Linked DNA regions of Homo sapiens: regions 1 and 2 are each linked to region 3. The links come from fine-mapping of genetic effects on gene expression. A gene starts in region 3. Each other region holds a variant in brackets. All regions are shown on one strand. Distances are between the middles of the regions.

Region 1 (2,758 bases), 95 kb after region 3:
GTCAGACCAGTTGTCTGCTCTCAAATCCTGTCTCCTGATAAGATGTTATCAACCATAATGCATGCCCAAAACTTCATTAGCAATTTTAATTTCGCCCGGGTCCTGTGGTCCTGTGGTCCTGTGATCTCACCCTGCCTCCATTTGCCTTGTGATATTCTATTACCTTGTGAAGCACGTGATCTCTGTGACCCACACCCTATTGGTACTCCCTCCCCTTTTGAAAATCACTAATAAAAACTTGCTGGTTTTGCAGCTTGTGGGGCATCACGGAACCTGCTGACATGTGATGTCTCCCCCGGACACCCAACTTTAAAATTTCTCTCTTTGGACTCTGTCCCTTCATTTCTCAGACTGGCTGACACTTAGGGAAAACAGAAAACAGAAAATTTTTGCCTGATATCTGGCTGAATTTCGCCCGACATCTGGCTGAATTTCCCCTGATATCCTGGGGTTTCAGTTTTCCCCTGTCTGAAATCACTGCTTTCAAGCTGTCAAATTTCAGTGAATACATTTGCTCCACTGGATATCACATGAGTATTCCATCAACTGTGAGGTCATGACCCTCTCAGTAGGTGTAGTACCCATACTCAGTAGGTGTAGTACCGGGGCTTGGATTTTAGCAGTGTAGGGAGGATGAGGCAGATTTTCTCATGCCAGAAATCACGCAGGATGTTTACATGTAGGAAACTACAACCTAACACTGATGAGTTCATGGAGCAGGGTGGGATTGTGTAGGATAGTTCATCACTGTGCCTGAGGTTCTCTCCAGTGTAACAAAGTTTTTTCAAAAGACCTTACAATTGGAAAGGAACAAATACAAAAAAAACCTCCTCATTTACATAATATAAGAGTATATGCAGACAATCCTATCAATGTAAAAATGCTTCTAGAATGAATACAACTTTAGCAATGTTGGTGGATTTAAGACCATTATACTTGTATTTTAATAATAGCAATAAACAATTGGCAATTGAGACAAACATAGTACAATTTAAATTAACATTAGAAAATATAAATTGAAAGGGATAAATATGACAGAAGATGTAGAAGATCTGTCCATTGAAAACTATAAAGCATTACAAAGATAAATTCAATGAGGATATATGTAAATAGAGATACAAACTTTATTCATGAGTCAGAAAACTGAATATTAAGATGTCATTTATTTTTCCTCAACTTTTTTGATAGATTCAATGCAATCAAAATCCAAATTCCAGATTTTTTAAAATAGAAATTGGGAGGCTAGCACTAACATTGATATAGAAATGTAAAGGTCCTAGAATAGCCAAAGAAAACATTAAAAAATAAACATTAGACCTAAAACCATAAAAACCCTAGAAGAAAACCTAGGCATTACCATTCAGGACATAGGCATGGGCAAGGACTTCATGTCTAAAACACCAAAAGCAATGGCAACAAAAGCCAAAATTGACAAATGGGATCTAATTAAACTAAAGAGCTTCTGCACAGCAAAAGAAACTACCATCAGAGTGAACAAGCAACCCACAAAATGGGAGAAAATTTTT[G/T]CAACCTACTCATCTGACAAAGGGCTAATATCCAGAATCTACAATGAACTCAAACAAATTTACAAGAAAAAAACAAACAACCCCATCAAAAAGTGGGCAAAGGACATGAACAGACACTTCTCAAAAGAAGACATTTATGCAGCCAAAAAACATATGAAAAAATGCTCACCATCACTGGCCATCAGAGAAATGCAAATCAAAACCACAATGAGATACCATTTCACACCAGTTAGAATGGCAATCATTAAAAAGTCAGGAAACAACAGGTGCTGGAGAGGATGTGGAGAAATAGGAACACTTTTACACTGTTGGTGGGACTGTAAACTAGTTCAACCATTGTGGAAGTCAGTGTGGCTATTCCTCAGGGATCTAGAACTAGAAATATCATTTGACCCAGCCATCCCATTACTGGGTATATACCCAAAGGACTATAAATCATGCTGCTATAAAGACACATGCACATGTATGTTTATTGCGGCATTATTCACAATAGCAAAGACTTGGAACCAACCCAAATGTCCAACAGTGGATAGACTGGATTAAGAAAATGTGGCACATATACACCATGGAATACTATGCAGCCATAAAAAATGATGAGTTCATGTCCTTTGTAGGGACATGGATGAAATTGGAAATCATCGTTCTCAGTAAACTATCGCAAGAACAAAAAACCAAACACCGCATATTCTCACTCATAGGTGGGAATTGAACAATGAGAACACATGGACACAGGAAGGGGAACATCACACTCTGGGGACTGTTGTGGGGTGGGGGAAGCGGGGAGGGATAGCATTGGGAGATATACCTAATGCTAGATGACGAGTTAGTGGGTGCAGCGCACCAGCATGGCACATGTATACATGTGTAACTAACCTGCACATTGTGCACATGTACCCTAAAACTTAAAGTATAATAATAATAAATAAATAAATAAATAAATAAATAAATAAATAAATAAAAAATAGAACAAATGTGGTGGGGTTACCCTACTTCATTTCAAGGCTTATAAACTAACAATGATCAGTGTAGTCGGAATTATCATTATTATAAGAATATATCAATGGAAGGGAATAAAGCCCAATAGTATATACACATGTATATGCATATATAGACAACTAATTATTAATAAAGATGCAAATGAAGGTGAGAGGAGAGAAATGGCAGTGTATTCAACAATTGGGTCTGGAACAATTGGATAGCTCATATGGTTTGGCTCTGTGTCCCCACCCAAA
Region 2 (2,713 bases), 110 kb after region 3:
CATTCCCATTCCCCACCCAACCCCCATCTCCTCAGCTACACCTCCACCCCCATCCCTACTCCTACTCCGTCACCTGACCACCACCCTCCAGCCCCAGCACCAGCCCCAACCCTTCTGCCACCTCACCCTCACTGCCCCCAACCCCACCCTCATCTCTCTCATGTGCCCCACTCCCATCGCCTCCCCCATTCTGGCAGAATCCGGTTTGCCCCTGCTCTCAACCCAGGGAAGCCCTGGATGGCCCGATGTGAAACCACTGACTTGAACCTCACAGATCTGAGAGAAGCCAGGTTCATTTAATGGTTCTGAGGGGCGGCTTGAGATCCACTGAGGGGAGTGGTTTTAGGCTCTGTGAGGAGGCAAGGTGAGATGCTGAGGGAGGACTGAGGAGGCACACACCCCAGGTAGATGGCCCCAAAATGATCCAGTACCACCCCTGCTGCCAGCCCTGGACCACCCGGCCAGGACAGATGTCTCAGCTGGACCACCCCCCGTCCCGTCCCACTGCCACTTAACCCACAGGGCAATCTGTAGTCATAGCTTATGTGACCGGGGCAGGGTTGGTCAGGAGAGGGCAGGGCCCAGGCATCAAGGTCCAGGCATCCGCCCGGCATTAGGGTCAGGACCCTGGGAGGGAACTGAGGGTTCCCCACCCACACCTGTCTCCTCATCTCCACCGCCACCCCACTCACATTCCCATACCTACCCCCTACCCCCAACCTCATCTTGTCAGAATCCCTGCTGTCAACCCACGGAAGCCACGGGAATGGCGGCCAGGCACTCGGATCTTGACGTCCCCATCCAGGGCTGATGGAGGGAAGGGGCTTGAACAGGGCCTCAGGGGAGCAGAGGGAGGGCCCTACTGCGAGATGAGGGAGGCCTCAGAGGACCCAGCACCCTAGGACACCGCACCCCTGTCTGAGACTGAGGCTGCCACTTCTGGCCTCAAGAATCAGAATGATGGGGACTCAGATTAGCATGGGGGTGGGACCCAGGCCTGCAAGGCTTACGCGGAGGAAGAGGAGGGAGGACTCAGGGGACCTTGGAATCCAGATCAGTGTGGACCTCGGCCCTGAGAGGTCCAGGGCACGGTGGCCACATATGGCCCATATTTCCTGCATCTTTGAGGTGACAGGACAGAGCTGTGGTCTGAGAAGTGGGGCCTCAGGTCAACAGAGGGAGGAGTTCCAGGATCCATATGGCCCAAGATGTGCCCCCTTCATGAGGACTGGGGATATCCCCGGCTCAGAAAGAAGGGACTCCACACAGTCTGGCTGTCCCCTTTTAGTAGCTCTAGGGGGACCAGATCAGGGATGGCGGTATGTTCCATTCTCACTTGTACCACAGGCAGGAAGTTGGGGGGCCCTCAGGGAGATGGGGTCTTGGGGTAAAGGGGGGATGTCTACTCATGTCAGGGAATTGGGGGTTGAGGAAGCACAGGCGCTGGCAGGAATAAAGATGAGTGAGACAGACAAGGCTATTGGAATCCTCACCCCAGAACCAAAGGGGTCAGCCCTGGACACCTCACCCAGGATGTGGCTTCTTTTCACTCCTGTTTCCAGATCTGGGGCAGGTGAGGACCTCATTCTCAGAGGGTGACTCAGGTCAACGTAGGGACCCCCATCTGGTCTAAAGACAGAGCGGTCCCAGGATCTGCCATGCGTTCGGGTGAGGAACATGAGGGAGGACTGAGGGTACCCCAGGACCAGAACACTGAGGGAGACTGCACAGAAATCAGCCCTGCCCCTGCTGTCACCCCAGAGAGCATG[G/A]GCTGGGCCGTCTGCCGAGGTCCTTCCGTTATCCTGGGATCATTGATGTCAGGGACGGGGAGGCCTTGGTCTGAGAAGGCTGCGCTCAGGTCAGTAGAGGGAGCGTCCCAGGCCCTGCCAGGAGTCAAGGTGAGGACCAAGCGGGCACCTCACCCAGGACACATTAATTCCAATGAATTTTGATATCTCTTGCTGCCCTTCCCCAAGGACCTAGGCACGTGTGGCCAGATGTTTGTCCCCTCCTGTCCTTCCATTCCTTATCATGGATGTGAACTCTTGATTTGGATTTCTCAGACCAGCAAAAGGGCAGGATCCAGGCCCTGCCAGGAAAAATATAAGGGCCCTGCGTGAGAACAGAGGGGGTCATCCACTGCATGAGAGTGGGGATGTCACAGAGTCCAGCCCACCCTCCTGGTAGCACTGAGAAGCCAGGGCTGTGCTTGCGGTCTGCACCCTGAGGGCCCGTGGATTCCTCTTCCTGGAGCTCCAGGAACCAGGCAGTGAGGCCTTGGTCTGAGACAGTATCCTCAGGTCACAGAGCAGAGGATGCACAGGGTGTGCCAGCAGTGAATGTTTGCCCTGAATGCACACCAAGGGCCCCACCTGCCACAGGACACATAGGACTCCACAGAGTCTGGCCTCACCTCCCTACTGTCAGTCCTGTAGAATCGACCTCTGCTGGCCGGCTGTACCCTGAGTACCCTCTCACTTCCTCCTTCAGGTTTTCAGGGGACAGGCCAACCCAGAGGACAGGATTCCCTGGAGGCCACAGAGGAGCACCAAGGAGAAGATCTGTAAGTAGGCCTTTGTTAGAGTCTCCAAGGTTCAGTTCTCAGCTGAGGCCTCTCACACACTCCCTCTCTCCCCAGGCCTGTGGGTCTTCATTGCCCAGCTCCTGCCCACACTCCTGCCTGCTGCCCTGACGAGAGTCATCATGTCTCTTG
Region 3 (2,758 bases):
TGGGTTCAGCCACGCACCGGAGGTCACAGATGAGCAATGCTTGGTTGTGGCGTTGATAGGCACAGCCCAAGTCCCAGCAGAGCCACTGCCTGCTGTGCACCCCAGAGTCTTTCTGGCTGACGGTGGTGGCTCAGACAGGCATGCGGGATGCCACTGGCAGCAGTGTCTGCAACAGCCAAACAGTGGGAAGGACCGGAATGTCCATCCCCAGGGTCATAGACAAATACTCTGGGGCTGTGATTCAGCAAGGAGCTTGGGCGAGCTGGACGCTTGGGGGAAACCTTGGCCAGCAAGTTGCCAAACAGGAGGTCAGGCAAGGAAAGAGAAGGGGATGAGGGAACGACACCCAGAGGTGTGACCCCGTGGGAACCTGTTTGCCACCTGCCTGGTGGAGATGCTGTTCACATGGCCCCAGCCTCCCATGATGGGTCAGGTGCAGGGTGGTCAGATCCACGGGCGCAGAATCTCTGTTTTGAGCGGAGGCTGCTCTGCCCTGGCGCAGTGTCTAGCCCCGGCAACAGAGGACTGGGGAAGGACCTATGGAAGGCTGACTCAGGCCCTGACAGACGGAGGTCTCCAGGGAGGTACGACACCCATGCTGCCCTCAGGGCCAAGAGAGCAATGTCCCAGAGCCCATCAGGCTGGTGAGGGCACAGGGGGCAGGGGACAAATTGAGTAGCCCACTCCGCGCGGACTACCTTTCCAGGCACACACTCAGGCAGAGACCCAGACTCGGGACTTGCGGCTGCAAAACGGACGAGGCCCGGGCATACTTGGGTGCTGGGTCACCCTCCTAGGTGCTGGCTCCTGGCACCAGGGCAGCAAAGTGCTTCGGCCGGAGGGCTGCGGGTCCCTGAAGCCGGATGGGCAGCGGGGAGATGGCAGACCCTCCGTAGGATGGTGTGCGTGAGCTGCGTGAGCGCCTGGGGCATCTCCTCCACGGAATGGCACCCGCACCAGGTGCCCCTGGCCTCGCCTGGCCTTGCCAGCCAGAGGACCAGTCCTGGACGGGGAGGGGGAGGACAAGAGCAGGTGCACAGGCCCCAGAACCCGGCTCCCTGACCCTGGCCAGAACGCAGAGCTGCCGGACGCACCTCAGACCACTCCCTGGCCCTCTGGTGGGCACGCCGGGGTGCACACCCGTCGCCCCGCTGGCGCCTGCCTCCGGGGCACGTGCGGGAGGGGCAGAGGCCTGGACCAGGAACCGCTGTGGTGAGAGCCAAAGGCGCTGGGACCTGCGGCCCACAGACCTTTGGACACCCCGGTGGGGGTGGGGGTGGGCTGGCGCCTGTGTTCCCGGGACCCGCGGCGCGAGGGGAGTGGGGGTGGGGCTAGGGGATAGGAGCAGGTGACGTCACCCGGGGTCCTGGGGCGCTCGGGAAGGCGGCGAGAGCCAGGCCACGTGACCCGCCCGCGGCAACGGCCCTGCGCTCTCCCGGGCCGGCGACGCGGAGGGGTCCGCGCTGCACCGCCGCCGCACCCCGGCCGCGTGACCGCACTGCAGAGAGCGGCTGCGAGCAGGCGCCTGCGCACCGGCCCAAACGCCGAGCGAGCGAGGGAGAGGCACAGTCAGAGGGAACGCCCGCGCGGGGAGCCAGGGGCGCCCGACCCCGCCGCCGCCGCAGCGGCGCGCAGCCCCCGACGCGCCCTGTGGGGACCCGGACCAGGAGGGACCCTGCCCCGGGAAAAGGTATCAGACCCACCCGGGGAGGGGGACGCTGGGTCCCGGGAGACTCCGCCGCCCCTCGCCTGTCCGCCCTAACAGAACTGAAGCAGCCTGCGGGGCAGCGGTCCGGGGTCCGGGGTCCGGGGTCCGGGGTCCGGGGGCGGCGCGGGGATGAGGCCAAGACCCGCAGGGACCACCCCCCCGGGGGGGCGGGGCGGGACAGGGGCGGGGCCTGGCTGCAGAGGCGCGGCCAGGGGAGGAGGGCGGCTGGGGGTGGGAGTGGACGTGGACGTGGACGTGGGCGTGGGGAGGGGTGGGCATTAACCTCGCTCTCGCCCGCTCGCATTCACAGGCTGTGGAGACCTGGGCTCCGACCCCAGTTCATCCCCCCACACCCCCGCCGCCCCGTGCCACCCTGGTCCGCGCTGGGAACCCTATCCTGCCCCTCGTGTCAGCCCGGCACTGGCCAGAATCGCGGGCATGGCGGTGACCATGCTGCAGGACTGGTGCCGGTGGATGGGGGTCAACGCTCGCAGGGGCCTGCTCATCCTGGGCATCCCGGAGGACTGTGATGATGCCGAATTCCAAGAGTCCCTCGAGGCTGCCCTGAGGCCTATGGGACACTTTACAGTGCTAGGCAAAGCGTTTCGAGAGGAGGATAATGCCACCGCGGCCCTGGTCGAGCTCGACCGGGAAGTCAACTATGCTTTGGTCCCCAGGGAAATCCCCGGCACTGGGGGCCCGTGGAACGTGGTCTTTGTGCCCCGTTGCTCAGGCGAGGAGTTTCTCGGTCTCGGTCGCGTGTTCCACTTCCCGGAGCAAGAGGGGCAGATGGTGGAGAGCGTGGCCGGCGCCCTGGGTGTGGGGCTGCGCAGGGTGTGCTGGCTGCGATCCATCGGTCAGGCGGTCCAGCCCTGGGTGGAGGCCGTGAGGTGCCAGAGCCTGGGCGTGTTTTCCGGGAGGGACCAGCCAGCCCCAGGGGAGGAGTCCTTTGAGGTCTGGCTAGACCACACCACCGAAATGCTGCATGTGTGGCAGGGGGTCTCGGAAAGGGAGAGGAGGAGGAGGCTGCTGGAAGGCTTGCGTGGGACC

Evidence for each region. PIP is the estimated chance that this variant, and not a neighbour inherited with it, causes the effect.
Region 1: its variant is the best candidate, but not a certain one, in a credible set for the expression of PNMA6A in tibial artery (GTEx, PIP 0.59).
Region 2: its variant is the best candidate, but not a certain one, in a credible set for the expression of PNMA6A in whole blood (TOPMed, PIP 0.81).

What each region holds. Positions count from the first base shown.
Region 1 is chrX:153,166,151-153,168,908 of GRCh38, forward strand. No RefSeq gene overlaps it. Among named protein-coding and RNA genes, the nearest start is that of MAGEA1, 12 kb to the right of the region's middle. The variant G/T (reference allele first, on the strand shown) is at 1,527.
Region 2 is chrX:153,179,687-153,182,399 of GRCh38, forward strand. MAGEA1 (MAGE family member A1) reads left to right here. Exons shown (of 3, transcript NM_004988.5): 2 at 2,491-2,563; 3 at 2,639-2,713. The coding sequence starts at 2,704. Among named protein-coding and RNA genes, the nearest start is that of MAGEA1, 1.8 kb to the left of the region's middle. The variant G/A (reference allele first, on the strand shown) is at 1,770.
Region 3 is chrX:153,070,917-153,073,674 of GRCh38, forward strand. It overlaps PNMA6A (PNMA family member 6A), which reads left to right and starts at 1,538. Exons shown (of 2, transcript NM_032882.6): 1 at 1,538-1,690; 2 at 2,019-2,758. The coding sequence starts at 2,147.